Linked DNA regions of Homo sapiens. The protein of the gene in region 3 purifies or fractionates together with the protein of the main gene of each other region. This does not show direct contact. Each region holds a gene or a part of one and is shown on either strand. Other genes may lie near its edges. The genes, in order: CPVL, NCK2, TNIK and NCK1.

The links.
Region 1: the proteins of TNIK (region 3) and CPVL purify together in Homo sapiens (affinity purification with mass spectrometry; 2 studies listed by BioGRID and IntAct, with this or other methods). This does not show direct contact.
Region 2: the proteins of TNIK (region 3) and NCK2 purify together in Homo sapiens (affinity purification with mass spectrometry; 5 studies listed by BioGRID and IntAct, with this or other methods). This does not show direct contact.
Region 4: the proteins of TNIK (region 3) and NCK1 purify together in Homo sapiens (affinity purification with mass spectrometry; 3 studies listed by BioGRID and IntAct, with this or other methods). This does not show direct contact.

The regions. Positions count from the first base shown.
Region 1 is NC_000007.14:29,143,536-29,151,527, forward strand, and holds the start of CPVL (probable serine carboxypeptidase CPVL isoform b precursor), read right to left. Parts: upstream 3,003-7,992; 5' UTR 2,894-3,002; exon of another isoform or gene 2,586-2,893; intron 1-2,585. UniProt on the Homo sapiens protein: May be involved in the digestion of phagocytosed particles in the lysosome, participation in an inflammatory protease cascade, and trimming of peptides for antigen presentation.
Region 2 is NC_000002.12:105,887,894-105,894,776, reverse strand, and holds the end of NCK2 (cytoplasmic protein NCK2), read right to left. Parts: intron 1,796-6,883; coding exon 1,601-1,795; 3' UTR 505-1,600; downstream 1-504. UniProt on the Homo sapiens protein: Adapter protein which associates with tyrosine-phosphorylated growth factor receptors or their cellular substrates. Maintains low levels of EIF2S1 phosphorylation by promoting its dephosphorylation by PP1.
Region 3 is NC_000003.12:171,457,397-171,464,491, forward strand, and holds the start of TNIK (TRAF2 and NCK-interacting protein kinase), read right to left. Parts: upstream 3,010-7,095; 5' UTR 2,668-3,009; coding exon 2,611-2,667; intron 1,996-2,610; exon of another isoform or gene 1,822-1,995; intron 776-1,821; exon of another isoform or gene 550-775; intron 1-549. UniProt on the Homo sapiens protein: Serine/threonine kinase that acts as an essential activator of the Wnt signaling pathway. Recruited to promoters of Wnt target genes and required to activate their expression. May act by phosphorylating TCF4/TCF7L2.
Region 4 is NC_000003.12:136,857,908-136,865,218, forward strand, and holds the start of NCK1 (SH2/SH3 adapter protein NCK1), read left to right. Parts: upstream 1-4,300; 5' UTR 4,301-4,446; intron 4,447-4,541; exon of another isoform or gene 4,542-4,844; intron 4,845-5,238; exon of another isoform or gene 5,239-5,262; intron 5,263-5,404; exon of another isoform or gene 5,405-5,526; intron 5,527-7,311. UniProt on the Homo sapiens protein: Adapter protein which associates with tyrosine-phosphorylated growth factor receptors, such as KDR and PDGFRB, or their cellular substrates. Maintains low levels of EIF2S1 phosphorylation by promoting its dephosphorylation by PP1.

The DNA.
Region 1 (7,992 bases), on a different chromosome or scaffold from region 3:
CATACAGTACAAAAAGATATGTGGCACTATCTTTTTGAAAGAGGGGTAATGGGATACAGAGTCCCAAAAAGGAAAGGAGGAAGAGCTTACCTTTAGGGTTCAAAGTAAATATTTTGGCCTGTAAACAATTCTAAGCAATTTAAAGACAACCAATAACTAGAATCAGACTAGAGAGAAAAAGGTAGGAGGTAAGTTCCAACTATATTGGAAAGATAAGCTGCTAAGAATTTGCTTTTTCAGGCTCCAAGATCTAAGGACACAGTCCTTCCCCCTCTTTCACTACCACCACCCTGTCCTGCACCCCAGGGTCTGAGTTAAAGCAATGAAAGCATGTGATTTCATGTTCAAGGTTATACCTCTAATATCTCTTAAGGGAGAGCAATCTCAATACCCTGGTTTCAGTTCAGATACGCTGTAACAGCTGTCTTGTGAACTGTCTATTAAGGCTTACATCTTTGAGCTTGCAAATATAGTATAAAAGTTCAAACTCCACTACTGTTTTTACCAGGAAAGTACAGTTCTTAGCTTTTTGCCCAGCTTACCTCTCTCACAAGTCAATATAGACGTTAATGAGTCATTGTTCTAGAGGTATCTTTCTAATTCTGAGAAGCTTGCCTACTTCTTTTAAATGTTCTTAGTTCAGTCAATGAAAATCTCACATTATAAAGCCATCGGAAATGGTAAACTAAAACAATCATGTTTGCTCTTTAGTGAACCATACTTCCTATTAAGAAGGGGTCACTGGCCAGGCACAGTGGCTCATGCCTGTAATCCCAGCACTTTGGAAGGCCGAGGTGGGAGGATCACTTGAGGTCAGGAGTTCGAGACCAGCCTGGGCAACATGGCAAAACCCCATCTCTACCAAAGATACAAAAATTAGCCGGGCATGGTGGTGTACACCTGTAATTCCAGCTACTCAGGAGGCTGAGGCACAAGAATCCCTTGAACCCGGGAGATGGAGGTTGCAGTGAGCAGAGATGGTGCCACTCCAGCTTGGGTGACAAAGTGAGACTCTTGTCTCAAAAAAAGAAAGAATGGGTCATTACTATTTACCTTGAGTATTTGGGTGCTAATAAACAGATATCTGATGATACCTGGGGCAAGAACTGAGTTCCTCCCCTCTCATTGCCTTAGTTCTGTGCATCCCAGGGTAGTATTCAACACTCAGTGTTTCCTCTGACAAACTAGATGCTTCCCAAAACAAAAACAAACTCATTTTTAGAATTCTGTTATATTATTTGCTTCTTGTTTTTATTTTTTGTGGGGAGTGAACTGGTAAACCCAGTGGACTTTCTTAACACTCTTCTAAGTCATTCAAACTGTCAGTCAAAACCCACCTATTTCTCAGGCTAGTAGAATCCCACTATAAAGTGATTTATAAACTGGATTTATATAAATTGGGGGATCAATTGCCCCTCCCAAACAATCATCTCCTATAAAAGATTAATAAAACAACATCTGGTTAAGAACACTGACACTACATTATAAAGGGTTGCCCCTGTACTTAGACTAGCATGAGGTACACATCTAGAATGCCCAGTTAGCCAAACGGTCTTGACGACCATGCAGACTTTCATATGCCAACAAAGCCGGTGCAGTGTACTTTTCCAAAAGTGCTCCAATTCTCCTTTTGGACAACTTTCTTAAACGTTATTTACCAAGCTAATAAAATGTATTCTCAATGGACTTTTTACTCTGCTTACATCTTTGTTCTTACTCATCCCAAAGCAAAGAATGGAAAAAAAATGAGTTGTACATTTAGCCGGGGAAGGGAAAGGCAAGTACTGAGGGGCTCCTTTTTCATTTACTGATGCCAAAACTGAGGCTGTGGAAGATAAGTTACGTCCCTGATGTCATCCAAGTAGTGGATACCGGAACCAGGAATTGCACAGAATTGTCCAGCTCCAAAACCCAAGCACCTTGCTTGGGACCCACTGGGGTTGCAGTGAAGGTGGGGGGCTCAGAGGTGACTGCACACGGGTCATGCATAGCCACAGTCATTATATGGCCAGAGTTTTAAACATTATTTTGTTCTGTCTTCACCATAGACTTCATCATCAATCATAACTGATAAGGAAAATTACACTTAGCTGAAAAGCCAAGTCCCGTGCTAGGGAGGCATTTTCTGTATGTTATTTCTATTTCCAATAAAACAATTCTTTAAAAAGAAAAACTTATTATCTCCATCTTTCAGATGGAAAGACTGAGGTTTAGTAGGCTTAAATAATTTGCCCGAGGTCACTCACTAGCCAAGGCCAGAACTGGGATTTAAATCCACAAATATTCCAAAGTCCTTTTGTTTCTGTATCACTTCACAGGGAGCTGCTTCCACCTGTCTCCTGTGCCCTTGGTTTCTGCTAATCCTACATTCCAAGAATAAAAGTCTTCCTATGCGTTCCTAGGCAGAAGCCAAGTTTCCCTGCTTTGGGCACGTTCAAAATAGAAGGTATTTTCCGCTTCTCTTGCTTCTGAGCACCCACGAAATCAACACATCCCCAAAACACGCGTTGAGGGAGTAAGGGAAAGTGTCCTGCACCCGCCACCCTCCCGCGCTAAGAGCGGCAGAGGACCCCACAGCTTCGTACTTCCCCGGAGGAGCTCCTGGAGTAGGAGACGGCTTCTAGCCTGGAAGAACCCCGGGTGCGACAGTTGTGCCAGGAAACTTCAAGAGTATTCCCTCGGCTGGGCGCACGCAGTACATCCCCAATGCTCCAATTTGAACTTTGACTCGGCCACGACCACCCCACTCCAGTCTCACTCTACGGTGCTTTCTCCCCTGTTGGTGCTGAGGGCTTTTGAGACTACCTGCCCCGCGCTCCCTAAGTCCGAGGGACCGAGGCGAGGACCTGTCCCGCTGAGCTGGCACGACCCACGCAGGGCAGGCGGCACTTACGCGGCGCAGTCGGTGCTCCTCCCTGAGCCGCGGCGCGCAAGGACCCCAGCCGGTTGTCCTTGCAGCGCTTCCCAAATCAGGCAGAAGTGAGGCAGCCCCACCCAGTCACGAGGACCCTGCAGAACTCGAGCCTTTAAGCGCTCCTCTAGGCTCACATGACCCAGACCCACAGGGCAAAAAGTGCGTCGTCGTGTCCCAACCTCCTGGTCCCAGAAACCTGGCCGCATCAAGTCAGCGCTTCCCATGCTGGAAGAAGCAAGCAGCCCCAGGGTGGAATCTTAAAAATTAATGAAGAGCATCGGCGGGGTGCCATTCAGGTTGGTTTGTCCCTTTGTTTTATTTTGATTTTGTCTCCCAGTTTTTAAAAGCTGCTATCTTAAAATTTCAACCCTGTATTTTGAAATTATTTCTGCACTCTAGGACTTACTTGCAAGCCCAGGATTTACATTTGGAAAGCGAGTGGTGTTTGATTCCCACTGTTTAAAAAGGCAACACACGTTCGCTGATGGTCTACATTCCAGCTGCACTAGCAGTAAGCTCGCACCAAGTGCCACTGTCCTGCCAAGCACTCTCCTGAATCACTGCGCTGGAGTCTCAGAGCCACCTGATGTGTTCTGTACCATTATACCCATTTTGCAATTGGGGGACACAAACTAAGTGAGGTTAAGTAACCCATCCAGGGTCACATTGCTTGTAAGTGACCTGAGTGTATATTATTAGCCACCACCAGGTGCTGGGCATCGAGCCAGACAGTACGGGAGCAAGAACTAAAAAAGGCAAGGAGGTTGCAATGGCAAGTAGATAACACAAAATAAAGGAGGGTCATCATTATCAGCAACAGCAGCGTCAACTGCCAGACAGGTGGGAGAGGCCACGGGGAATCTTCTGCACTGTCCCGGGCCAACCTCCATCTCCTCACAGCTAGCTGCAGGAGTGAGCCCAGGGAAACCCGCAGTAGAGCAGCCCAGCCAACCCGACAGTCAGGGGGAAAAATTGTTTTAAGCCACTTTCAGTTTCGCGTAGTTTGTTATGCAACTAAGGCTAACTAAAGCACTAGTTTTACGAGCTGGAACAAACTAATGTCACTGAATATCTGTTTTCTCCTAAGTACCTACTTTATTGGGTTGTTGTGAGGACTCACTGAAAAACTATGTGTAAATCACCCAGCACAAAGTATGTGCTCAGTGACTGCAGTCATTCTTTGCTATCATACCTTCCATATGGAAGTACTTCCTACCCACCTAGCTCTTTAAGGAGAAAAATCTGTTTGTGGGAAAATAATTCTTTTAAGGCCAAAATCAGCCCACCTTTAATATATGCAGGACCCAGGGCAAAAGTACAAACAGAGATCTGTAGGCCAGATACCTAAATATTTAAAAGTTATAAACAAAGTTAACAAATGATTAAGTACAATAAGTTCTACCTTCCTACCTAGACAAATATACCTTGGGAATTGACATGAAAGGCCAGATTGAAACTTTGGATGATCTGCACTTAAATATGATGGTGCAGGGAGAGGCGATTTCCAGTTCCTGGTTTGCAGCCACCTCCTCTCTTCCCACAGGGCTCTAGTCCATTGGTGGAAGCTCGGTCAAGCTTCCCAGAAGCAGCTGTCCCCCAGCCACCTCTTGGGCACAAGAGTATGAACACCAGAGTCAGCAATGTTCGCCCATGGGAGTACAGACATTAGCAGATAACACTGCTGCTGGCGTGCAGACCCTTGAAGCAGGCTCAGTGCCATTTGGGGAGGGAATTTGGAATTTGCCTTCTAAAGTGTGGGCCCTGGACAAGGGCTCCTTGGGTCTAAGTATAAGGACAACTACTGGCCAAAGAATACCTGTGCCCACGTGGAACCACTTAAAAACTAAACTGAATTTTACAGTAAACACAGGAGGAGCCATGCTGTAAGCATATTTATTCAAAAACAGGGTGTCCCAAAAGTCTTCCTGCAGTTTTAGTAACCTCAAGGCTATAAATGCTGCAACTTATAAGAACACCATTTGAAAGTTAATTTAACACTATTTATCTCTGTGAATGTTGAATAACACGTTTTAACTTTAATTTTTGTTTCAGTTCCCCTGAGTGAAATATGGCATACATTAACCAGAAGAGAAAATTACATTTATTAAAATAATTAAAACAGAGTCAAAAGAAGTAAACGTTCAAATGAGTTTTGTAAGTTTGTAGCATTTCGACTTAAGAAGTTATTAAAGCTTAAAACTGCACTGACCTTTTTGGGGTACCCTGTATTCGGATTTGTCGTGTGTCAGGTTCTGTGCTAGACACTTGATTAAAAAGAAAAAACAAGAAAAAAGATAGTCTTCTTTAGGGAACTTGAAGTTTAGTTGTGGGGAAGGGATGAAGGGGACACACAGATTGATCCCATCATACAATATAAGAGCTGTAATTGGGGCTGATAAAGTGTGTGTGTGGGGGAACAGAGGACAGGGACCAAATGACTCTGCCCGAAGAGCCAGGGGAATCCTGTCAGAGGAGGTGACTTGAAGCTAGACATTAAAAAATGAATAGCCACTGAGGGGAAAGGTGGCAGCACAGGCAATGAGCAGGCCACCTGCACTCAGGTTGATGCTGTGCTCTTGGACAGATGGACTGTGCGACACCAGGCGTGTTCAGGGTGGGTCGGGGGTTAACTAATACTGAGGTTAGAAAATTAGACTGGAGCCAGCTTGGAAAGGGCAAGAATGCTGAGCTCTAGAGACTGATGTTGTTCAAAATTAGTAGATTGGGAAGTCTGTTTCCCTTTTTTTTTTTTTTTTTTTTTGAGACAGAGTCTTACTGTGCCGCCCAGGCTGGACTGCAATGTCGCAATCTCAGCTCACTGCAACCTCCACCTCCCGGGTTCAAGCGATTCCCTGCTTCAGCCCCCCGAGTAAGCTGGGACTACAAGCACCCGCCACCACAGCCAGCTAATTTTTTGTATTTGTAGTAGACACGGGGTTTCACCATATTGGCCAGGCTGGTCTCGAACTCCTGACCGCAAGTTATCCACCTGCCTTGGCCTCCCAAAGTGCTGGGATTACAGGTGTAAGCCACCGTGCCCAGCCTGGAAATCCATTTTCTTAATGAAAGAGAATAAAATAGAACAAAATAGTACAGAACAGAATAGAACCATAGGACAGGAGTATGTGCTTTCCAGGGAGGTTGTAACTGAGCAGCTATTAACAGTAGAAATTTATTGTCTCATAGTTCTGGAGGCTACAAGTCTGAAATTAAAGTGCCAGCAGGGCCAGGTTCCCTCTGAAACCTGGAGGGGAAGGATCCTTCCTCGCTGCTTCTAGGTTCTGGTAGCCCCAGGTGTTCCTTGGCTTGTGGCAGCATCAACCCAATCTCTGCTTCAGCCTTCCAGGGCTTTCTCTCTGTGTCTTTTCACAGTGTCTCCCCTCCATGTGTCTGTCTCTGTGTCCCAATTTCACCTATTTATGAGGACACCAATGACATTGGATTAGGGTCCACTCTAATGACCTCATTTTAGCTTGATTACTTCTATGAAGACTCATTTTCAAAATAAGGCCACTTCACTGCTGCAATAGATATTTTTAGCCCTTCTCTTGTATTGAGAATATTCAAAGGTTGGCCAACAAATCGGTTTGCAAAGAGATTCGTTAAGCCTTCTTTGATTGGCTTTCCTGAAAACAAGATTTAAAACTGTCAGGTCGATCACAAGCCCTTGTGTTCTCTGCACCTGCATATTCTAGTGAGGTTTGGGTTTGTTAAGCCCTAGTGGTTCAGAGCATGGGTCAGACTCAGTTTGAATCTAGAACCTTGCACCTAATGACCATAAGCAAGTTACTTAATCTCAGTTTTCTCATCTGTACATGATAAAAATACTATTAGCTATCTTGCGGTATTATCAAGAGGAAGAAATAAGATAGTAGTACATATAAAGTGCTTGTCATATATAAAGGCTCAAAAAATGGCAGCTGTAACAATAATAATGGTGATCATGACAATCAAGATTCTAGGCTGTGACTGCAGTTCTTTCCAACTGTCTATCCAAGACAACTAAATTGTATCTGGACACCACACAAAAACATGCTTCTCACTGACCTATAGCCGGAGCTTTGCTGAACTCCTTAAATTCCAGTTAAGAAGACACAGAGAATAGATCATTTACACATCTTGATCAGGTAAATACAATTCCAATTGTCTAAGTTTGTAGGTCTGATTTTACATTTGCAGCTGCTGCCAGCAAGATAAATGTGGAGCTGCAATGGAAACAAGGGGAATTGATTAACCTTGTAGGCAATCATGCCCCTCTTGGAAGTGTCTAGGTCTCTCCCTGCACTTGTCAAGGCTTCTATAGCCATTGTTCCTTTTCAGTGTTGTTACTGATCTTCAATGGGGCCACCGGGTAGCCTGGAAACACAGCTCAGAGGCACAGCGAAAAGAGAAATGTCACAGCCCCCATGCACCACAATTAATTGTTCAATAAACACTTTTCTTAAGGAACGAAGCCAGATGTGTCACACCCACACACTTGCAAAACAACACTGTGCTATTAAAAAAGGGAGGGGTGGGTGGTAGATCCAGCTGAAGAAAGTCTACAGCTGTTCTGCACCTCAGCTATAAGCATTGAAGGCTTCATTAAGTGAGAAGTAGGCCCAGGTGGCGGTAACCAAGCTCTAAGACACAGACACATGCCCTGATCAACTTATTGAAGTGCTTCAGTCTCCTTGTACTTGGTAAGGAAGGGGCACCTCCTAAGACTAGCCACAGGCTACAGACTCCAGGGAAGTTGTGGATAATTACATGGTAATTATTTCTAATAAGTGCTTCCACTCTTAGCATGATTATCCTTCCCTGGGTTGCTTGCCTCCTTATGCCTGGTTTATGTAGGGAAACAATGTCCAAATTAATCTACGTCTTTTGTAAGTGAGCCTATACTCCTTTGACGATCCAGATGGTTTAGCGCCCTTTAGCAGCAGGTGTTAAGGCTTTCTTACAAAAGGCATATTTTCAGTTTCCCTTCGGCTATGGAAAAAGCCAGGCAAATAAGACTTCGGTGATTTAAGGATAAATTATGGGATTAATATAGACATGGCCACTAAGGACAGCTGAGCAAGCCCTGTGTAAAACCA
Region 2 (6,883 bases), on a different chromosome or scaffold from region 3:
TAAAATGGGGATGATAGCAGGTCCCACCTCATGGGGCTGTGATGAGGAACAAATGGGGGCGCAGTGCATGGTGCAGAGGGAGCGCTTGATACGTGATTGGCCTAGGAGGGCACAAATGCCAAGTCATGTGACTCTGCACCCCCAGGGCCTGGCACATCAATATAAATGCTCCCGATCAAGAGGACAAATCGAGAGTTAGTCGTGGGGGACACATGGTGTGAGAGCGCTGGCTGCCAAGAGTTCAGCAACATATTTCTAAACAAATATTTTCCAAAGAGCAAAGTTCAGACCAAGCTTGAGATTCTGGGTTCCCTTGGGGTTTCACTAATTAAAACTCATTATTTCAATATACAAAAATGTGGGGGTAGAAAATGAAAACACACAAGTAATAAATGTTAAGCTCTTCTCTAAAAATGATTTCCACTCCGCAATGAGTGAATGCTTCAGTAATTACTCTCCCATGATTGAGTCTGAGTTTTCCCAAAGATAAATACACACAGAGCCTTGTCATAATACTTTTTTTTATTACAATATCCAAAAAACTGGGTATGCAAGTTTAGGGGATCTCAAGACCCCTTCTTCAATCGTAGGAATGTGCCATCTCAAGACGTTATATTTAAACTATAAAGAAGTTCAAATGTAAAGGAAAAAGAAAATGCAATTTCTTCATAAACATTCTGTGTGTCTCTTACTACCAATCACATACTCTTTTGTAAACCCTGAAAAATTTCCCTGTAAATAATATATATATATATAGTGTGTGTGTGTGTGTGTGTGCACGTGTGTGTGTGTATAAAGTGTTGGTAGCTCCCTTCCCCAAAGATCAGCTGTTTTCCTTAATCATCTGTATTAGTGTCAACAAACGGCTACAGATACATATTTCTTTGAGAATTAAATACATAATTGTGAGATTCAAACAAGCCGAAGGGCAAGAGGAAAAAGCACTATGTGGATGGCACATTTGGGGTAAATTACCAAAACATCTGTCTTTCTGAGTCACCGGTTCCCTCTTTTGCAGACTGCCTTTCCAGGAAATTCTTTATTGCAAGCACAGCCCCAAAGGCACTGGGCAGTCTCCTCACTGCCATCGCACCCGGTGGTTCCAGTATTGCTATCAGCAAACGTATCGGCTCCCTGCACAGTCCGGGAGCCATGTAAGGGCACAGGACATGGGCGAGGGCTGCTAGGACTGGGGCCATCGCACCTGCTCTGCCCAGCACGCTGAGTGCCCAGGACACGGGCGCTGCCGCTGGGTGGCCTTAGGCTCGCTCCTGCGCTCACAGGTGCCCTGCGTCTTTTTAAAGAGGGGTTCCATGAGCGGGAACGAGTTGAATGCACGAGCGCCACTTCCGATGGAAAAGGAATAATGTGAACTCGCCCTGCTCCTCCCCTCCTCTAAAGCTGGCCGGCCGGGTGGGCTCGAGTGTGGGTGTGAGGCCTGGATGGCAAATGGGAGACGAACCGACCAAGCGACCTGAACATAAAGAGAGACTCGCAGAGAAGCCGTCGGGGCCGTCCCCGCGGGAGGAGCCTCTGCCACAAGGCCGGGCGGGCAGCTCCACCGTGGGGCCCGGGAGGCGAGTGTGGGGCCGGGGCGCCGTCACTGCAGGGCCCTGACGAGGTAGAGCTTCTCCCCGTGCTCGCTGGTGAAGATGGGCGCCTTTTTGTAGTGTTCCACCAGCTCGTCCATGGTGTGGAAGCGCCGCTGCCCAATGCAGTAGACATTGTCCACGAGCTGCACCTTGAAGTGTTTGTTCTTCCCTGACGCTTTAAGGGACACGGAGAAGTCGCTGGGCTGGGGAGGAAACAGAACACAGTTACAGCCGGGCCACAGCGGGGAGCTGTGTCTAAATCCATCCACATCTCTTGTGCGTCTAAATCCAAACCACCCATTGCTCAAACACTGGGTCTCTGCTTTTTTTTTTTTTTTTGAGATGGAGTTTCACTCTTTTGCCCAGGCTGTAGTGTAGTGGCCCAATCTCGGCTCACTGCAACCTCCGCCTCACGGGTTCAAGCGATTCTCCTGTCTCGGCCTCCCGAGTACCTGGGATTACAGGAACCTGCCACCATGCCCGGCTAATATTTGTATTTTTAGTAGAGACAGGGTTTCGCCATGTTGGCCAGGCTGGTCTTGAACTTCTGACCTCAGGTGATCCCCACCCCCCTCCCAGCCTCAGCCTTCCAAATTGCTCGGATTACAGGCATGAGCCACCACGCCCAGCCGGGTCTCTGTTTTATATCTAGAACGGCATCTGATGTTCAGAAAGACCTGGAGGTAGTCCACGATTCTGAAATTCTGAACCAAAGAAAAAATAAATTCTGCTTAGCCCAGTTTCAGTGCTAAATGCGTTTTAGTTATTTGAAAAGTGCAAACTCATTATGGAATATACAGCACTTCACTATGGAATATACAGTGTTGCCCTGACTGCTCAAGAAATTTGCTGTTTTTCATTTCCCAAACTATTTTTTGATAAACTGGGAATTTATTAAGAGTGGTTTGCATGCAGGCAGTAGCTAGAAATTTTACTACTTCTGATGTCTAACCCTATTAGAAATTAAGACATCAAAATTTTTCTAATTCTTTTTTTTTTTGAGACGCAGTTTTGCTTTTGTTGCCCAGGCTAGAGTGCAATGGTGTGATCTTGGCTCACTGCAACCTGCGCCTCCCAGGTTCAAGCAGATTCTCCTGCCTCAGCCTCCCGATGTGCCACCATGCCTGGCTAATTTTTCTAATTCTAAGCATTTAAAAATATGAACAGCAGTGGAAAATTCCGGTCGCATTTTAAACATAGTTCACAATATCCCAGAGGAAGCTGAACTATGGTTTGATTACAGATTTTATTGAAAAATATTTAAATTCTGTGATGTGCCTTCTATTTCAGAATATTTTAGAAACATGTCATTATTTTAATTAAAATGTGTCTTTTATTGGCCAGGTGCAGTAGCTCACGCCTGTAATCTCAGCACTTTGGGAGGCCAAGGCAGGTGGATCACCTGTGGTCAGGACTTTGAGACCAGCCTGGCCAACATGGTGAAACCTCATCTCTGCTAAAAAATACAAAATTAGCCAGGCATGGTGGTAGTGTGCCTGTAATCCCAGCTACTTGGGAGGCTGAGGCAGGAGAATCGCTTGAACCTGGGAGGTGGAAGTTGTAAGCTGAGATCACGCCACTGCACTCTGGTCTGGGCAACAAGAGCGAAAAATCTCAAAAAAAAAAAAAAAAAAAAAAAAAAAAAAAAAAAATTGGTCTTTTATCTCATTTGCTGAAAAGCATGCAGGAAAGAAGATACTGAACGATAAATGTTCTTTGTACAAAAATATCAAGTTTTGATCAATTCATTAAATGAATAACAATTAGTTACTAACACATGCCAGGCAGGCGGTGCCCTGGATACATGTGTGTGCATGCAGGACATATGCTCTGTGACAATCTGGTGTGGGGAACAGATAAATAGAGGTGTACAGATGGCTGCACAGGGCAGTAAGTTCTATGAAAAAAAAAAAGAAAACAAACAAAAAAAAGAGTTGCATGAAAGAGGAGCATGAGATACCGCAGCTCTAAGTGTGTGAGCGTGCGCAGATGTGAGAGGGAGTATGTGAGTATTGAGAGTGTGTGAGAGTATGCGTAGCGTGTGAGTTCATCTGTGTGAATGTATAAGTGCGTGTGGGGGCAGGAGAGCCCTCTGGACAATGTGGAGCTGAGCATGTGCTCTCCGAGGCAGGGCTGGTACCTCGGACATGCCTGGCCAGTGGCAGGACCACAGCCTAACATCCGAAATTCTTCCTGGAATTCCCAGACCAGTTTTCTGCTTTTCTCAAAGCCCAGAAACTTCCTGCTCTGAGGGTCCAGCAGCTCAGCCCTGCTCTGCGACCTCCCAGCAGGACCTCCAGACAGTTAACAAAGGACTAGGCCATTGTCTATTACAGAGTTCACAAAAGCCCAAATAAATGTTTGATGAGAAGTGTGCAACCCTTGCAAAACAAGGAATCACTCCATTTCTACCAATGACAACTCAGGGGAATGAGTGTCTGAGAAGACTCAAATTGTGCAAGGCAGCTGGGCTCACCCAGCAGCCATAGCTGTTAACAGAAAAGAATGAAAGGAACAATTGTAAGTATAGTTTGTATTTATGCATGCCTCTGTCTCAAATAGACCAAATAAGAACAAACCTTTGAGGCGAAAAGCCCCATCTCATCCCCATGTGAGGCCCAGGGCATACTCCTGGATGAAACTCCAGGAAGAAACCAGAAGGTTAATCTCAGATTAGGCCTCAGCCTATAGATGATTAATATTCTGTACTAGAAGTTGTATCTTTAGGAAAAGATGAAGGGCAGTCTCACTTATAGAGTTTACTATAAGCCAGGCTCAATTTAGAGATAATGTGGCATCATTTTTAGTGGAGGCAGTATGGGAGTGAATCATGGTAGATGTAAGATACACCCAATTTTAATTAAGCCAAATGATCAACAGATGACTTTCTACATAAGGGAAATTTGCTTTTAATTCAAGCTCCTTAATTTAACATCATGGTGTGTGTGTGCCTGTATGCATGCATGAGTTGCAGCAATAAAATTTTCGCAGCAGAAGAGGTAATTTTTAATTTCGTGGGCTCCTGAGCAGAAACCTTTAAAAGTTAAGGATGTAGAACCAATTTATGCCAAGCAGGAGTGCTAAAAGTTGGGGAGTGTTCTTTAATTTAAACTAAGTAGATTTTCTGTAGGAAATCTGAAAAAGAACAATCTGTATACTAACATACACCGTTACATATGACCACTGAACACCTCTAAGTGAAGTGTGAAGATGAACTAGTTAAGATGTTCTCCAAGTGTGCTCTCAAGACCAGCAGCATGAGCATCCTCTGAGAACTGGTTAGGAAGCATATTCTCAAGGGCCAGCCATGGAAGCTCACACCTGTAATCCCTGCCCTTTGGGATGCCATGGTGGCAGGATTACTTGAGGCCAGGACTTTGAGATCAGCCTGGGCAACATAGTGGGACCCTATCTCTACATAAAATTTAAAATAATTAGCCAGGTGTGGTGATGCATACCTGTGGTCCCAGCTACTTGGGAGGCCAGGGTGGGAGGATCACTTGAGCCCGGGAGGTCAAGGCAACAGTGAGGTATGACAGGGCCACTGCACTCCAGCCTAGATGACAGAGTGAGACCCTATCTCAAAATAATTAAAAAAAAAAAAAAAAAAAAAGAAATGCAAATTCTCAGGCTCTGCCTCAACCCTGCTGTAGCAGAAATTCTGGGGTGGAGCCCAGCCATCTGTGTTTTAACCTCCAGCACCGTGTGTTTTAATAAGCCCTTCAGGGGACTCTGATGCAGTTTGAGAACTGGAAGAAAGAAAATCTGGAACAAACATCGGCAGTGCTGGAGCCACCAACAAATGTTTGGTCACCAGAAAAAGATGGGAATGCCATTTATGGGCAAAGCAGCCCATGATGGAGGGAGCTCCAGTCTGTGGATACTTTTCCAATTCTGTCCTGAGGACTCTGGCTCTGCTCCAGACATCTCTCATAGGGAATTTCCCCTGAAGGGACAGCTGGGACACTGCTGTATGGTCTCCTCCTTTCAAAGTGAGCCACCAGTCCCTGCATCTGATGGAGATGGAGTTACTCCCGACCCAAAACAACTCTGCCTCCAGAGGGAGCCAGGGAATGATTCCCATGAAAGCAACTCCATCAGTCCTATTCTCATCTGTTGCAGTCCTTCCACGGTTGGCTTTCTAGAACAGATTTCAAGAAATTGGATGAAAAAGGACCATGCCACACTTGCTCCTCAACAAGTACTAGAGTACTGATAGTATGGTAGAGTACTCTACATTTAAGCTTGTCAAAGAATCTTAACACATTTTTGAAACATGCAGTCAGGATGCTGGCTGAGGCTGCAGTCATCTGAAGGCTAGACTGGGGATGCAGGCTCTACTTCCAAGGCAGTCTGCTCACATGAACCCCTAGGGGGCTCTGTAGGGCTGCCTGAATGTACTCTCAACATGACAGCTGGCTCACCCTAGATCAAGTGACCCAAGAGAGAGCAAAGAGGCAGCCACAATGCCCATCTCGGAAGCTGCCCTCCATCGCTTCTGCCACATCTTGGTCATTAGAAGTGAGTTGCTCAGTGCAGCCCATGCTGAAGGGAAGAGGGTCAGGCTCCACCTTCTGAAGCAAAGAGTACCAAAGAATTTATGGACATCTTTTTAAGCCATCATAGATGGACAGGACACTCATTACAATTTTCTATGATTGGACTAAAACCTAACTAGACTCAGTCCCCGGGTTTTGAAACATCTCCCCTTTGATTTCTCCTCTTTAATTGCCACCTTTGTGCTACCTCCCACTGTCCGCATTTCCTACACTTTCCATCTCCAAACACTGTACTTACTTGGTATATAGTAATTTCTCTGTGCTGACTACTGGGCAAATTCTTCAAATTTTCAAACATCAGACCACTTCTTCCTGTTATGTCCTTCTATGAGTACTCCTTATAAGGAATGATTTTTCCATTCTCATAGTTTTTGAATCAATGGTTCTGGAGAATGAACAATTAGTACAACCCATTCATTTGACCCTTCTTTTCAGAAGTCATTTTCCAAGTGGAATCTAAGGACAATTAATAGGTTGGCGGAAAACCAACCTCTCTCGGGGCCTCTATCATCATTATTTTTGTTTAGGCTTTAGATTCTGTGTTTGAATACAACTAAGTGCAAGAACCCTATTTAGCTCCACATCCCCACACCGGGCTCAGAGTATCTGGTGTTCAACAAACGTGCAGACTTAAAAATTTCTAATTTTGACTACCTCTTCCATTATTCATTCCTTTAGGTAATTCTTACACCTCATCTCTTTGCAATTTGTGCTCGCGATAAGTGGGTACTT
Region 3 (7,095 bases):
TACATTAAAGAGCCACCGAAACAGCGAGGGACTGGTAAGTCTGCAGCAAATTCTCCCAGAAGCCACTGACCTTGGCTGCATTTCAGGGGTCAGGCATTCCCCAGGAGGGGCTCAGCAGGCAGACTTTACCAAGGGCTTAGGAACAAATGAGACATCTCATCTAGATGAGGCCACCTCTCCAAATGTGGCAAGGTGGAGATGATCTGCCCTCTGATTTGTGGAGATTACCTATGTGGCCTTTGGACCCACTCCAGCAGACACACCTCACCCACAAGACTGGTCAAAGACCCTGGCCCTCCAGGATATAACTGTCTCCACATCTGCATCTAAGTCTTCTAGCCAGCAGTTCCTGGTCCCCAAGCTAGCTGTTGCCCTCTCTGTTTCCACACCTCCCAGCAGGCAGAAAAACAGAAGCAGAGCCCTAAGCTGATAGCCCAGGCCACAAAGAGCAATTTCAGTGAATTGTGCAAAGATATATTTTCAAAATACAGATCACAAGAAAGCACATCCCAAGTGTGAACCGCAGTCGTCCGCCCAGTGGGCCCTCACCGGTTGCTCCCCTGCCTGCAGGCTCCGTGCTTGGTATCTCAGAAAACCTTCCCGAGGAAAAAGCCCATAAGGGACAAGTCCCGGCCCAACTTAAAATCACATCAGACTGCTTTCCAGTAGAGGAGCAAGGTCGAGATTCCGGCCCAGGGAAATCACCGCAAGCCCTGCGCATTGTTCAGACCCCTTCCCCCTTTGCCACTTCCCGCCCCCCACCCCGACCTCCGACCGATTCGCAGCACCCCACCCCCAGTCGGGGCCATCCATCCACCTGATTAACTCGCCGGCAGCAACTCCCAGCGTAGAAAGTAGGGCAAATGAACACACACAGTCGGTAAAGCAGGAAGCCACAGACCTGGCCAATGCACCCACCCTGTTACCAACCCCACCCCGCTGCGCAGGGGGCAGCCGGTTCTTGATGTGGCATTTCCACTCCAGGGAAATAGACAGCTTCCTGTAATAATGCATGAATGAGCTTTGGCTGCCCAACTATCAGAACAGCCCATTTCAAACGGCATCTCTGTTTCTTCTCAACTCCTTACTTGCCTTGCTGAAACCTCATCTCTTAGCCCAACAGATTAAGACGAAGAGAGAAAGACTTATTCAAAGAGATGTGGAGGAAAAGGTTTAATTAAGGAGACCAAAGAGAAAGTACCACTTTGATCACAAAGGTAGCACTTTAATATATCAGTGCAGATAGCGGCAATGTCAGAAGTACTAGGAATCCAGGTAAATGGCCCCAAGATTCAGCATCAATCTAACAATGTATTCCTCAGGAGGGCGTGTGAACTTCCATGCTTCATCCATCCTGGTGTCTCCCTGTAGAGAGCCACCATGAATTCCTTCTCATCCACCCTCCATACATCAAGTATATGCACTCGCTTTCTTTTTAATTTTATTTTTGGTTCGGGAGAGGAAGAAGCAGTCCTTAAATTGGTGTCCAATCCTTCTCAGACACCCGCTGCTGCCACCATCCCCACCCCTCACCCCCTTCCAGGCAGGCAGCATCTAATTAAAATGGCAAGAAAGCTCTGCCCCCTTCCCCAAAGGAGTGTGTTGGGATCGGGAGTTGGGGGTGGGGAAGCGTCGAAGCAGCACTTGGATTCCTGGTATTCTGATCTCAAAACAACAGCAAAATGGATTCTATATCAGTGATGTCTTAGTCAATACAATGAAACGGCGTCTGAGGTAATTCACGTGAAGGTAAACGCAAACCAGTGGGGCTGGGGGGAGGGAGGTGCTCTACAAAGGACTGGCCACAGACACGGGGAAAACACACACAGACACACACACACACACACTCGCACACACTCCAGGGAGTTCCGGTCTGATTGAGGAAAAGCAGAAAACACATCCCTTTCACCTGCTTAAGTTCAGCCATAAAACTGAAACGTTACAGCCACAAAGTCAGAAAGAACAGGCAGGGCTGAGTTAAAGCCATAAATAAAGGTGAGTGGCAGACTGGCATTTAAGGGAGCGCTGAGAGGGCGCCCGGGCGCGGGAGGTAGAAAAGGGGGAGGGGGAGGCAGTTGCCATCTACAAGACCAGCATAGCAATAACTGCCCCCTTGGAGCGGCAGGTTCGGCTTCGCGGGGACAGCCAGCCTCACAATGTCATCTTGCAGGTAGCTGGAAAACGTGAGGGGCCAGTGCCTTTATTCACGCTGGCATTCTTTTTGCAGAAGGGACAGTCGGGTCTCGCGCCTTGGCACCAGACAACTGCCCGGGGCGTGTACACACACACACACACACACACACACACGCACACACGCCTTTCATTTTAATGCTCTTACACCGGTATAAGATGAAACTGGCATAAGCTCTACGAGCCCTCGGGAGAGCCTAAGCCACGGCCAGAGGAAGACACGTACCGCACAGCCCCTGCCGTAGGGGCTCAGCCAGGAGCACCTCAGCAACCCCGAATCAAAACGGGAATCCAGGTTCCCTCCCCGACGCATTCTCCCGCTGCTGTCCCCCTGCCCCAGCCCCAGCCCCCAGTCCACGCACCGAGCCCATTCACCCTAACCCAAACCACTGGAAAGAAACCAGAAAACGTCCTGCTCACCCTCAGAGCCGAGAGATCTATTTCATCCAGGCTTCGAGCCGGGGAGTCGCTCGCCATGTCTACTTCTTCGCTGGAGAAATGGACCAAAACCACCCCGAAGCTTTTCCCTTGGAAATTCCACCTTGGTCTATTTCACTCGCGTCCTCATGCGGGTGTCGCGCCAGAGGCCCCGGGCCCAGCCTCCCCCGCCCACCCCAGCCCCACAGCGCCGGATCCCGATCCTCCGCGCGTCGGTCCGCCGGGTCCGGGAGCCCAGCCTGCGCGGATCTCCAAGCCCCGAGCAGCGGTGCGTGTGGGCTGAGCGCCCCGATCGGCTAAGGGCGCTGGGGCTGCGTGGGTGTATTTAAATGGGACATGCTTCTTTGCTTGTGCGTGGATGGCGGCTGCATTGGCTGTTATAATGAGACACATCAACTCCTCCACTCAGCAGGGGGAGGGTGGGGGTGGAGAACCACGCAGAACTGTCTATCACCGCTTCCTGGGAGGAGTGAAGGGGGAGTGGGGAGGCGGAGGAGGCGTGGTCTTGGACTGGGGAGAGGCCGCGCTTCCTGACCCGGTCCCTCTGCACCAGCGTGGAGGGGGGAGGGGCGCGCACCCTTTCCGCCCAGGCTTTTGCGGGCTCCTCGGGCCGAACCCGAAGGGGCTGTTCCTGAACCTTGACTTGTTATCATAGGGACCCAAGCTCTATTTTTGTGTGGCCAATTCGTGCACTGCAGCAAAATGGCCCTTCAGTCGCGTCTTGGGGTTTCTCCTCGGTTCAAATGCTCTCGCGCTGAGAAAAAGCCGGAGGAAAAAAAAGCGACACCCTCCCTCCCCCATTAATTATTTGTGGGGCCGGAGTAACGCGGGCTGGTGCAACCGGTGCATATAAGGACTTGTGTGCAAGGAAGGGGATCCGCCTCCAGGCGCGGAAAGAGTAGGGAAGAAGCGCACACGCACAGTGCACCCAGCTGGGCGCTTCGGCAGTTTGCAGCTGCGGCGGGGTCGGGTCCACCCGCGGTCCCCGGAATGCCGGACGGCTGATCCCGGGTGCTGGTCACTCGCCGATTCGGGGCTGGGAAGGTTTGCCAGAAGCGGGAAAGATGGGAGATCTGAGCGCTCTCTTGGCATCGCCACACCCAGGACTTGCTCGTGCCGCAATTCCCCACGGAAACAACCGAGTTGAAACGAGAAGCTTGCTCTCTGGGTGCAGTAGCTAGAAGGCTTCAGGTAACTCCAAAGCCAACACTGGGTGAGGCAACACACGCCGCCTCAGGACTCAGCATTTCTTTCAGGCTGCGTTTTCGTGGCAGACCTACCCAGATTGATGGAGAAAGTTTGGCTGGCGGATAAGAAGTAACGCGGAAGATGTGTACGTGAGAGCGATTTCACTTCACTCACTTTCTCATTTAAAGGTTGGATGTTTTACAGTGGTATACATGATTCTCCTTCTGTAATCAAGAGTGGGAAGTCGCTTCCCCCAATCCCCGCGCAGCCCTTCTTCTCCCGCCTTAGCCATGCAAAATACCTAGAAAGAAAACACTAAAACTGAACTTTTTTCCAAATACAGCAGTAGCTTTGAAAGCATTCTTTGCTCCTCTGTTAACAGCAGAATGTAATTCTGACCACTGCACTGATGGTTTCTTAATCATGCAGTATGAAGATCAGCTTCAAAATAAGTCTTATGAATGAATGAATGAAAGCCAGTGCAGTTAGTTCATCATGACTGCAGACATTAGAGGACTTTGAAACAACCTTTGGTGTACATTGTACTGTTTTTGTTACTGATATTGTATGTATTCATATGCATTGTGGATCATGCACCATGAAACTTGAAAATTGTTCCAACATCTCAATGGCCACAACAGTTTGGTAGCTTTTGCCTGTAAACGTTGTATGTAAACATTTGAACGTGTTATACTAAATTACTAAACTCATTTTTTACTAAAATCATCTGGTTCGACATAGTAAGTAACGTGCAGTAAGCCACCACGTCGAAATGAAAAAAAAAAAACAGATTATTTCCCATCATTGTCTTTGTTTTTTTCTCTTCTGTGTTCCTGTTTTTTTACCGTTCATCTAGACAACAGGTTAATGTATTGTCTCAGGGTTGAAAGAAGATAATTTAAGATCAAGTATTAAGATCTATAAACAACTATTTTTTTAAAACTGCAAACATAAGGAAATATGAGTTAAATATTTTTTCCATGGAAAGCCTTCGTTTTATACTCATGATTATATTTGAAACATCACAAACAGATCAACTTTTTTGACATTAGTGAGCTGTTTGGGCCACGAGGGTGCCAAGTTGGCATTCAGATTTAGTTTAGTTTTAGATGAGAAAGTTATAGATGCAGTATGATGCCAGGTGCTAAATGGAGGAGGGCTTCCTAAGAGCCTGAGAAGTTGATGAGACAGCCAGGGGAAGGCAGGGGTGTGGGCTGCAGGAAATACCATAAAAGGAGAGATTGCAGTATCAAAGGGACCTCCAACTGGTAAAGGAAGGTGAGAAGGAGGAACTTGAACTTTTTCCTTTTGGTCAAGTGTGTATCAAATTTCAGCTATTCCAGTATAAATTTCCTAATTTTTTCCTATGTCTCTGTATTGCCTGTACTATTTTACCACTTACTTAACATTTTTCTTTAAATCAACACTTTTTTCTTACACTTAATATAAAAGAAAACATAAATCACTACTCTAAATGGAAAGCCAACAACACTTGCTTTGAAAAAAAAAGGGGGGAGGAAACCATTAAAATAAATATAATGGAAAATAAAGAAGTATTATTAAATTCTAGCTAGCCATCAATTCCTGCTCTGGGCTTCTAGCCTAAGGCCTACTCTTAGTTTGTTAAAAGAGAGAATAGCAAATACCAGGAAAAACATTCAAGACTTGAGATTTTTTTCTTGATGTAATCTGAAGGATTAAGAGAACTGACACCATTTATGTGCAGTTTGAAAACCTGCCGAATAATACACTATGCTGTTTACATATGTATAAATATGTAGTAAACTATATAAAGCATGGATACAGGCAGTAAGGATACAGATTAACTTCAGGATAATGAGAAAAGAGGAAGAGGAAAAGGAGACTCCAACAATGATACCTAATTTTTTTGCTAAAGATTTCTGCCAGGCACGGTGGTGGCTCACACCTGTGATGCCAACATTTTGGGAGGACAGGTTGGGAGGATAGTTTGAGTCCAGGAGTTCGAGACCCGCCTGGGCAACTTGGTAGAACCCCATCTCTACAAAAAATACAAAAATTAGGTGGGCATAGTGGTACACCCCTGCAATCCCAGCTACTAGGGTGGCTGAGGTGGAAGAATTGCTTGAGTCCGGGAGGTTGAGGCTGCAGCAAGCCAAGATAAGCCACTGCACTCCAGCCTGGGCGACAGAGGGAGACCCTCTTTATAAAAATGAATAGAAAATTTGAATAATAAGTAATACTATGCTGCAGATATTTTTCTAAGCATTTGTTCTATCTGAATGTTTGTGTCTCCCAAAATTTATGTGTTGAAACCTAACCCCCATAGTGATAGTATTAAGAGGTGGAACCTTTAAGAGGTGATTAGATCATGAGGGCAGATCCTTCATGAACTGGATTAGTGCCCTGAGAAAAGAAGCTTGAGGGAGCCTGTTCGCCCTTCCACCACATGAAGATGCATAGAAGGGGCCATCTGTGAGAAAGGAGCCCTCAGCAGACTTCAAATCCGCTGATATCTTGATCTTGGACTTTCCGGCCGCAGAACTGTGAGCAATTCTGTTTCTGTTGTTTATAAATTACCTAGTCCAAGGCATTTAAGTAATTTAAGTAACATGGAGAATAAATCCAGAAGGCCCAATATTCATCTGATAAGGGATCTAGAGAATGGATGGAAGGAAATACTCAAAAAATGGTAGAAAATATTCCAGTATCTTGACTGGGCACGGTGGCTCACACCTGTAATCCCAGCACTTTGGGAGGCTGAGGAGGGCGGATCACCTGAGGTAGGGAGTTCAAGACCAGTCTCACCAACATGGAGAAACCCCGTCTCTACTAAAAATACAAAATTAGCCGGGTGTGGCAATGCATGCCTGTAATCCCAGCTACTAGGGAGGCTGAGGCAGGAGAATTGCTTGAACCCTGGAGGTGGAGGTTGTAGTGAGCCAAGATCGTGCCATTGCACTCCAGCCTGGGCAACAAGAATGAAAAAAAGAAAATATTCCAGTATCTTTAAGTAAAAAGCTCTCATTTAGCTCTGAGCCAAATGCATAGGTAAAAAATAACACACTTAAACACCTCACAGTGAGATTTCAGAGCATGAAGGATAAAAAGTAAATCTTAACTGGATTACCTTCTCATCAGCAACAATGGATGCTAATAGACAATGGAACAGTATTCTAAGGAAATCATTGTAATGGTGTTTTGTCTTGTTTTGTTTTGTTTTTGAGACACAGTCTCTCTCTGTCACCCAGACTGGAGTGTGTGGCTGGCTCATTGCAGGACCTCAGTGAGTTCAAGCTA
Region 4 (7,311 bases), about 35 Mb from region 3:
TGCCTATAGGATAAACTCTAAGGTGCCTGACTTCCATAACCTGGTTATTGATTATATTTCTAGCTATCTTCTGCTCTAGCAATATTCTACTATCGTTTAATACCTTTTTATTATGCAGGCTCCTCTATGTGGACAGATTTTTTCTAGTTAATTGCCTGACTAACCTGGCCACACAACTCCTTTCCCCTGTGGCTTAATGTCCTCCTTGCACTGGACTGTCTATAACAATTTCTAACTATAAGCTATCAGGTTTCTGGGAAAGGTCTTGACATGGAGGCTCATTTTTCCCTTTCTTGTGTTCCCAAATTCTTTTATTTTGGATTAATAAAGTAAGCCACCTGCGTGTTTTTAATCATAGACAGATTAGCTGCCCATATCCAAAGCTCCACGTGTAGTCCCTAGATAAGTTTTGTTTTTGTTTTGAGATGTGGTGTGATCATAGCTCATTGCAGCCTCAAATTCCTGGGCTCAAGCCATCCTCCCACCTCAGCCTCCAGAGTGGCTGGGACTACAGGCACATGCCACTATGCCCAGCTGATTAAAAAAAATTTTGTTTTGTAGAGACAGGGTCTAGCTCTGTTGCCAGGGCTGATCATAAGTTTTGACTTACATTTTCTTGTTGCCTGATTCTGGTTAGTCCCTGATCCACTCAGCACTAATTAGCAAGGATGATTCCTGTTTTTGGTTTGAGTTCCCCTGAAAGAGAGGAAGCAGCAGCCATGTGCATGTTTATATTTGGAAGCTGGGGAGACAGACTGTGTGAAAGGAAGTCTCTGGGACAGCTCCCACCCCATTAAAACATGTACTGCATCCCTTCTAAGTGCAATTACATACATGCCTTTCTGCCTATCTGCCCTTCCAGTCTATGCTTTCCTTTTTCATTGCTGTTTGCTTATTTTTCTTCTTTGACTCCTCTTTTGCATATATTTTTGGAGGTTTCTTAAATTTTTTTAAAGAGTTCCTGTTAAGAATGAGTGATGAGAAAGATTAAAGAAGGAAAATTAAGAGGATAAACTAGCTGGGTGCTGTGGCTCACGCCTGTAATCCCAACACTTTGGGAGGCTGAGGTGGGTGGATCACCTGAGGTCAGGGGTTTGAGACAAGCCTGGCCAACATTGTGAAACCCCGTCTCTACTAAAAATACAAAAAATTAGCCAGGTGTGGTGGTGTGTGCCTGTAGTCCCAGCAACTTGGGAGGCTGAGGCAGGAGAATTGCTTGAACCCGGGAGGTGGAGGTTGCAATAAGCTGAGGTGGTGCCACTGCACTCCAACCTGGGCAAAAAAGCGAGACTCCATCTCAAAAAACAAACAAACAAACAAAAACCCTAAATGTATGACTTCAGCATACTTTTTGCTGGGTTAATTTTCCCCACTTAAGGTGGTGGTAAGCTACATGAAGGCAAGAACTGTATTTCTGTATTTTACCTGTTGTATTTATATTCACACCTTCTGCCTCCATCGTATGTTAAATATGTAATTAGAATTAAAATTGAGTCACGCTGTGCTAACAGTTTGATGGGTGATTTTGCAGCAACAGTTTTAACTCTGGACAAGTTTCTTCAAAAATGAATATAATATCTCAGTCTGTAAACTTTATAAAATGTATCAACAAATAAAACCATTGTATTAGCTTGGGCTGCCATAATAAAATACTAGATTGGGTGGCTTACACAACAGAAGTTTATTTTTTCAAAGTTATGTAGGTTGGGAGGTCCAAAAGAGGGTGCCAGCATGGTCAGTTTTGGGTGAGGGCTCTCTCTCTGGCTTGCAGATGTCTGTCTGCTTGCTGTGTTCTCAAATGGAGAGAGCTCTCTGGTGCCACTTTCTATAAAGACATTAATCTTATGGGATTAGGGCCCCACCCTTATGACCTAATTTAATTTTTATTACCTCCCTAAAGGCCTAGCTCCAACTAGAGATGGTCCCTGACTTAAGATTTTTTTGACTTTATGATGGTCCAAAAGCCATATGCACTCTAGAATCTGTACTTTGAGTACCCATAAAACCATCCAGTTTTTCATTCAGTATTTAGTAGATTACATGAAATACTCAATACTTTATTAAAAAATAAGCTTTGTATTAGATGATTTTGCCTAACTGAAAGCTAATGTAAGTATTCTGAGCATGTTTTAGGTAGGCTACTCTAAGCTATGATGTTTGGTAGGTTAGAAGCATTAAATGCATTTCTGACTTAAGATCTTTTCAACTTAAGGTATTTTCAGTTTATGGTGGGTTTATTGGAACATAACCCCTTTGTAAGTTAAGGAACATTTATATAGTCACATTAGGAGTGAGGGCTTCAGTATGAATTTTTGGGGGGGATGCAATTCAGTCCATACCAGTCATGATAAAATATGCAGTTATTTAAACCCTTAGAATAAACTCAAAATTCACCGCCATTATTCACTTTGGATGCTAATAACAGAATGTAGACATAGAGTAGCTGTTGCCCAGTTTCATGGTCTACTTGTCCCAGTCAACCTGAGGATAGTACAGCATAAATAGGTAAATTTGTGCTTGACCTTGTGATCCTACATATGGCAGGCTGTCTTAGTCCCTTTAGTGTTGCTAGAAAGGAATACCCAAAGCTGGATAATTTAGAAATAGAAAAGGTTTTTCGGCTTATGGTTCTGATGTCTGGAAAAGTTCAAGACTGAGCATCTGCATCTGATGGTAGCCTAAGACTGCTTCTACTCATGCCAGAAGGCAAAGGAGAGCTGGTGTGTGCAGAGATTACATGGCCAGAGAGGACGCAAAAGAAGAAAGGAAGTGCGACGTTCTTTTTAACCAGCTCTGGTGGAAATAAAGAGAACTCATTTACCCTCTCCCCAGGGAGGACATTAATCTATTCCTGAAGGAACCACCTCCATGACCCAACACTGCCCATTAGTCCCCACCTCCAACATTGGGGATCAAATTTCAACAGGAGGTTTAGGGGAACAAACATCTAAATTACAGCACAGGCCAACCACATGCATGCATTACCAATCACGTAAATAATTTTGAAGTTAAATGCAGAAAACTGCAAACTTTTGAGGCTGATATCCAGGGCCAGGATTAAAATAAAAAGTATTAATGCCTTAAACAGTATTTACTGACCATCTACCCTACTGCAAGGCCCTAGGGAGAAACTGAACAGACATGGTTACTGATTCAACGGAGTTTACAATCTAGGTAGACATACAGGCAAACCATTTCAATAGCTCGGATGGAGAAAACACCTGTGCTCCAAGGAAGGTACCTAACTGAGCAAGCTTCCCTGAGGAGCGATCCTAAACTGTGCCACAAAGATGGTTAAGAAGAGATGAGGCGGCTGGGCGTGGTGGCTCACGCCTGTAATCCCAGCACTTTGGGAGGCCGAGGCTGGCGAATCACGAGGTCAAGAGATCGAGACCATCCTGGTGAAACCCCGTCACTGCTAAAAATACAAAAACATTAGCTGGGCGTGGTGGTACATGCCTGTAATCCCAGCTACTCGGGAGGCTGAGGCAGGAGAATAGCTTGAACCCGGAGGCGGAGGTTGCAGTGAGCCGAGATCGTGCCACTGCACTCCACCCTGGCGACAGAGCGAAACTCGTTTCAAAAAAAAAAAAAAAAGAGGCAGGTTACGGCGCGGGGGCGGGGAAGGGGGCCTGCAGCACCGGCGAGGGGAAGAACCAACTTACTGATGCCTCAGCCAGTGGCTGGAGCCCTAAGAATGGACAGACCTGGCTCCGAAGGTCCTCTTCATAACACTACTGCCGCCAAGAATGTAAGCTGCCCAAGCACGAGGACACTTTTAGAGGGCCCTCAGACTCAGCTTCTTTTGGTCTGTGCCTCAAATTAAGCACATGTCTTACATTTCTCCCAGGTCCCAATTTTCAGGTCTGCTTTTCTTTGTTTTTCTTTGTCGCTCCCCGCTCCTAAGAACCTTCGGCTGGGATGACATTCTTCAGGTGCAGAAACCAGGGGGAAGCTCCCAGAGCAGTGGGGGCTGAACTCAGGACACAGTCATTTTTGCTGTTAAGTCTCTCCTGCGGCGCTGAGGAGGCAGGCTCAAAGTAACCAACCAGAGCAGCCGCAGAGGGAAAAGCTAAGACAGTTCTGGTCCGGCCCAGCGCTTCTCACCCTCTAGCTCTCTACTCTCCGCCGCGCAGCCTCCGCTCCCTCCACATCAGGCACGGCGCTTGATTGACATGAGGGCCCGCCCAATCCCAGTGCGGCAGAGACCGTTGTCGCGTCAGGGACCGGGGAAGGGGGCGACTGAACCTATCAGATTGGGTCCAGAGTGGGTTTCCTGCCCGCGCGGATCCGCCTGCCCACCGCGCGTGCCCCGCCTCTCTCCCAAGAGCTACGCGGCGGCGGCGGAGCGCAGGCCTCGTGCCGTTACGGCCATCACGGCGGCCGCAGTGGCGTCCTGGAGCCCTCCTCAGGTGAGCTGGAGCTGCCCGGCTCGGCAGCGGGAAGGTGAGACGGCCTTGTTGGCAGGCAGACACACACACACCCCCCTTCAGTCCGCTGTCCGTCCATACAGCCTGTTACTCGCTGCGTCGCTTCCTCTTCTCGCGCTGAGTTAGCCCCGGGGGCGCCGTCTGCAGGCTCGGAGCCGAGCCGGAGGGGGCGCGGAGGCTGCTCGGAGGGTCCAGACTTCTGCACCGGGATTCCGCGAGACCCTCGGGCCGTTGCCCCAGGGAGCGTGACCCCGCGGCCTCCTTGTCAGCCCCTGGAGCGCTGTGTCGGGCTGAGAGCCCGGGCGGCCGCCCGTGCGAGCCTGGGAGGTCGAGTGTGCGGCGCGCTGGTTGACTTGTCTGTTTTCTCATGAAAAAGTCCTTTTGCCAGCTGTGGCGTAATCCGAGGCCGGGAAGGTAGGGACGTGGTAGGAGGAAGGGCGCTCTCACCTCCAGCCCGAGAGGAGGGGAGGCGTCAGCCTGCGCGGTGCTGCGGGTGGACATCTTCGGGACGCGCCCTCTCCCCTCCCCCCACCCACCGGCCGTTTTCTAGTCTGGGGCTGTGACTTTAATGGTCTGGACCTGCTTCAGATTCGTACGCGAGTTGCTGGGGCTGTGAACTTTTGACTTGAGTTGTAATATGTTTGGTAAAACAAAAAACCATTTCGATAGGTTTTGTAACCTTTCTTCTGTATTAACATACAAGTTAAATTCGCCGTTAGAAGCTCAGGAAGCTGGGTTTTGTTCAGGGGTGAGGACGTAACCGTAGGAACGCTCTCGGTGTCAAACTGATGGACCCGGAGTCACCTGAAAATAATTATGCACGTTAGATTAGGTAAGAAGCCCTAGAAATTAGGAAAGAATTAGGTTAAAGAGAATTTCCTAACTCCTCTTTGGGTAGGGAGCAAAGCAGCTCAATGTCCTCCCAAAACGGGTGTTGCCAAAAGGTACTCATTTTTAAAATTTTACTTTGATAGACGTATGACAAACCAACTATAACGATTTCTTCAGCACCTGGAAACCAGTGTGCCTAGACTCTCAGCCTTCGGCGAGGTCACACAGTAAACGGAGAAATAACCTAAGAAGAAAGTTTTGTTTGGTAATTGTCAATAATATTCGTTCTTTTCTTTTTAAAACACTTAATTTTCTTGTGGGGGGTGGAGTCTGTGATATTCTTAAATAGGCATCCCATTCACAACTTGATAGTAATATGCACTGGTTGATAAATGGTGCTTTCTTTTCATCTTGACCACAAACTCTGAGACTTCTTTGGGAAAATTGTGATCTGTGGAAATTGGCTGTAATATCCATAAACATAGTTTGCAGAGTGTTCACATCTACTCAGCTGTTGGCTCATGTATTAAATTTTAAAATGTGTACTTATTTTTCTAGGCATTATCTTTTGTCCAGGTTTTGACAGTGCTTTCAGGTCCATCTAAATAAAATTTGAAACCTACGTGTAATGTTTTGTTCGATACTGAGGGAGTCCAGGCGGGGTAGCTCAAACCTGTAATCCCAGCACTTTGGGAGGCTGAGGCGGGCGGATCACGAGGTCAGGAGATTGAAACCACCCTAGCAGACACGGTGAAACCCCGTCTCTACTAAAAATACAAAAAAGTAGCCGGGCGTGGTGGCGGGCGCCTATAGTCCCAGCTACTCGGGAGGCTGAGGCAGGAGAATGGCGTGAACCCGGGAGGCGGAGCTTGCAGTGAGCCGAGATCGCGCCACTGCACTCCAGCCTGGGCGACAGAGCGAGACTCCGTCTCAAAAAAATAAATAAAATGTGTATTTATTTTTCTAGGCATTATCCTTTGTCCAGGTTTCTGCAGTGCTTTCAGGTCCATCTAAATAAAATTTGAAACCTACGTGTAATGTTGGCCGGGCTCGGTGGCTCACGCCTGTAATCCCAGCACTTTGGGAGGCCGAGGCAGGCGGATCACGAGGTCAGGAGATCGAGACCAGCCTGGCCAACACGGTGAAACCGCGTCTCTACTGAAAATACAAAAATTATCCGGGCGTGGTGGCACGCACCTGTAATCCCAGCTACTCGGGAGTCTGAGGCAGGAGAATTGCATGAACCCGGGAGTCGGAGGTTGCAGTGAGCCAAGATCGCCACTGCACTCCAGCCTGGCAACAGAGCAAGATTCCGTCACACACACACAAAAAAAAAACAGAAACAAAAAAAACCTATGTGTAATGTTTTGTTAGATACTGAGGGAGACCAGGCGGGGTAGTTCAAGCCTGTAATCCCAGCACTTGGGAGGCCAAGGCGGGAGGATAGCTGGAGGCCAGGAGTTTGAGATCAGCCTAAGCAATGTAGTGATACCCTGTCTCTAAATTAAGAAAATATAAAAAAATTTAAAAAGGAAAATAATAAAGAAAAGAGATACTTAGTGATACTTCATGGTTCTGGGTTTTTTTCTTTTCTTTTTTTTTTTTTTTTTTGAGACAGAGTCTCTGTTGCCCAGGCTGGAGTGCAGTGGCACGATCTTGGCTCACTGCAACCTCTGCCTCCCGGGTTCAATCGATTCTTGTGCCTCGGCCTCCTAAGTAGCTGGGACTACAGGTGTGTGCCACCATGCCTAGCTAATTTTTTTGTATATATATATATTTTTCTTTTTCTTTTGTTTGTTTTTTTTTTTGAGACGGAGTCTCACTCTGTTGCCCAGGCTGGAGTGCAGTGGCGGGATCTTGGCTCACTGCAACCTCTGCCTGCCGGGTTCAAGCAATTCTCTGCCTCAGCCTCCCCAGTAGCTGGGATTACAGGCGCCTGCCACCACGCCTGACTAATTTTTGTATTTTTAGTAGAGGCAGGGTTTCACCATCTTGGCCAGGCTGGTCTTGAACTCCTGACCTCGTGATCCACCTGCCTCGGCCTCCCAAA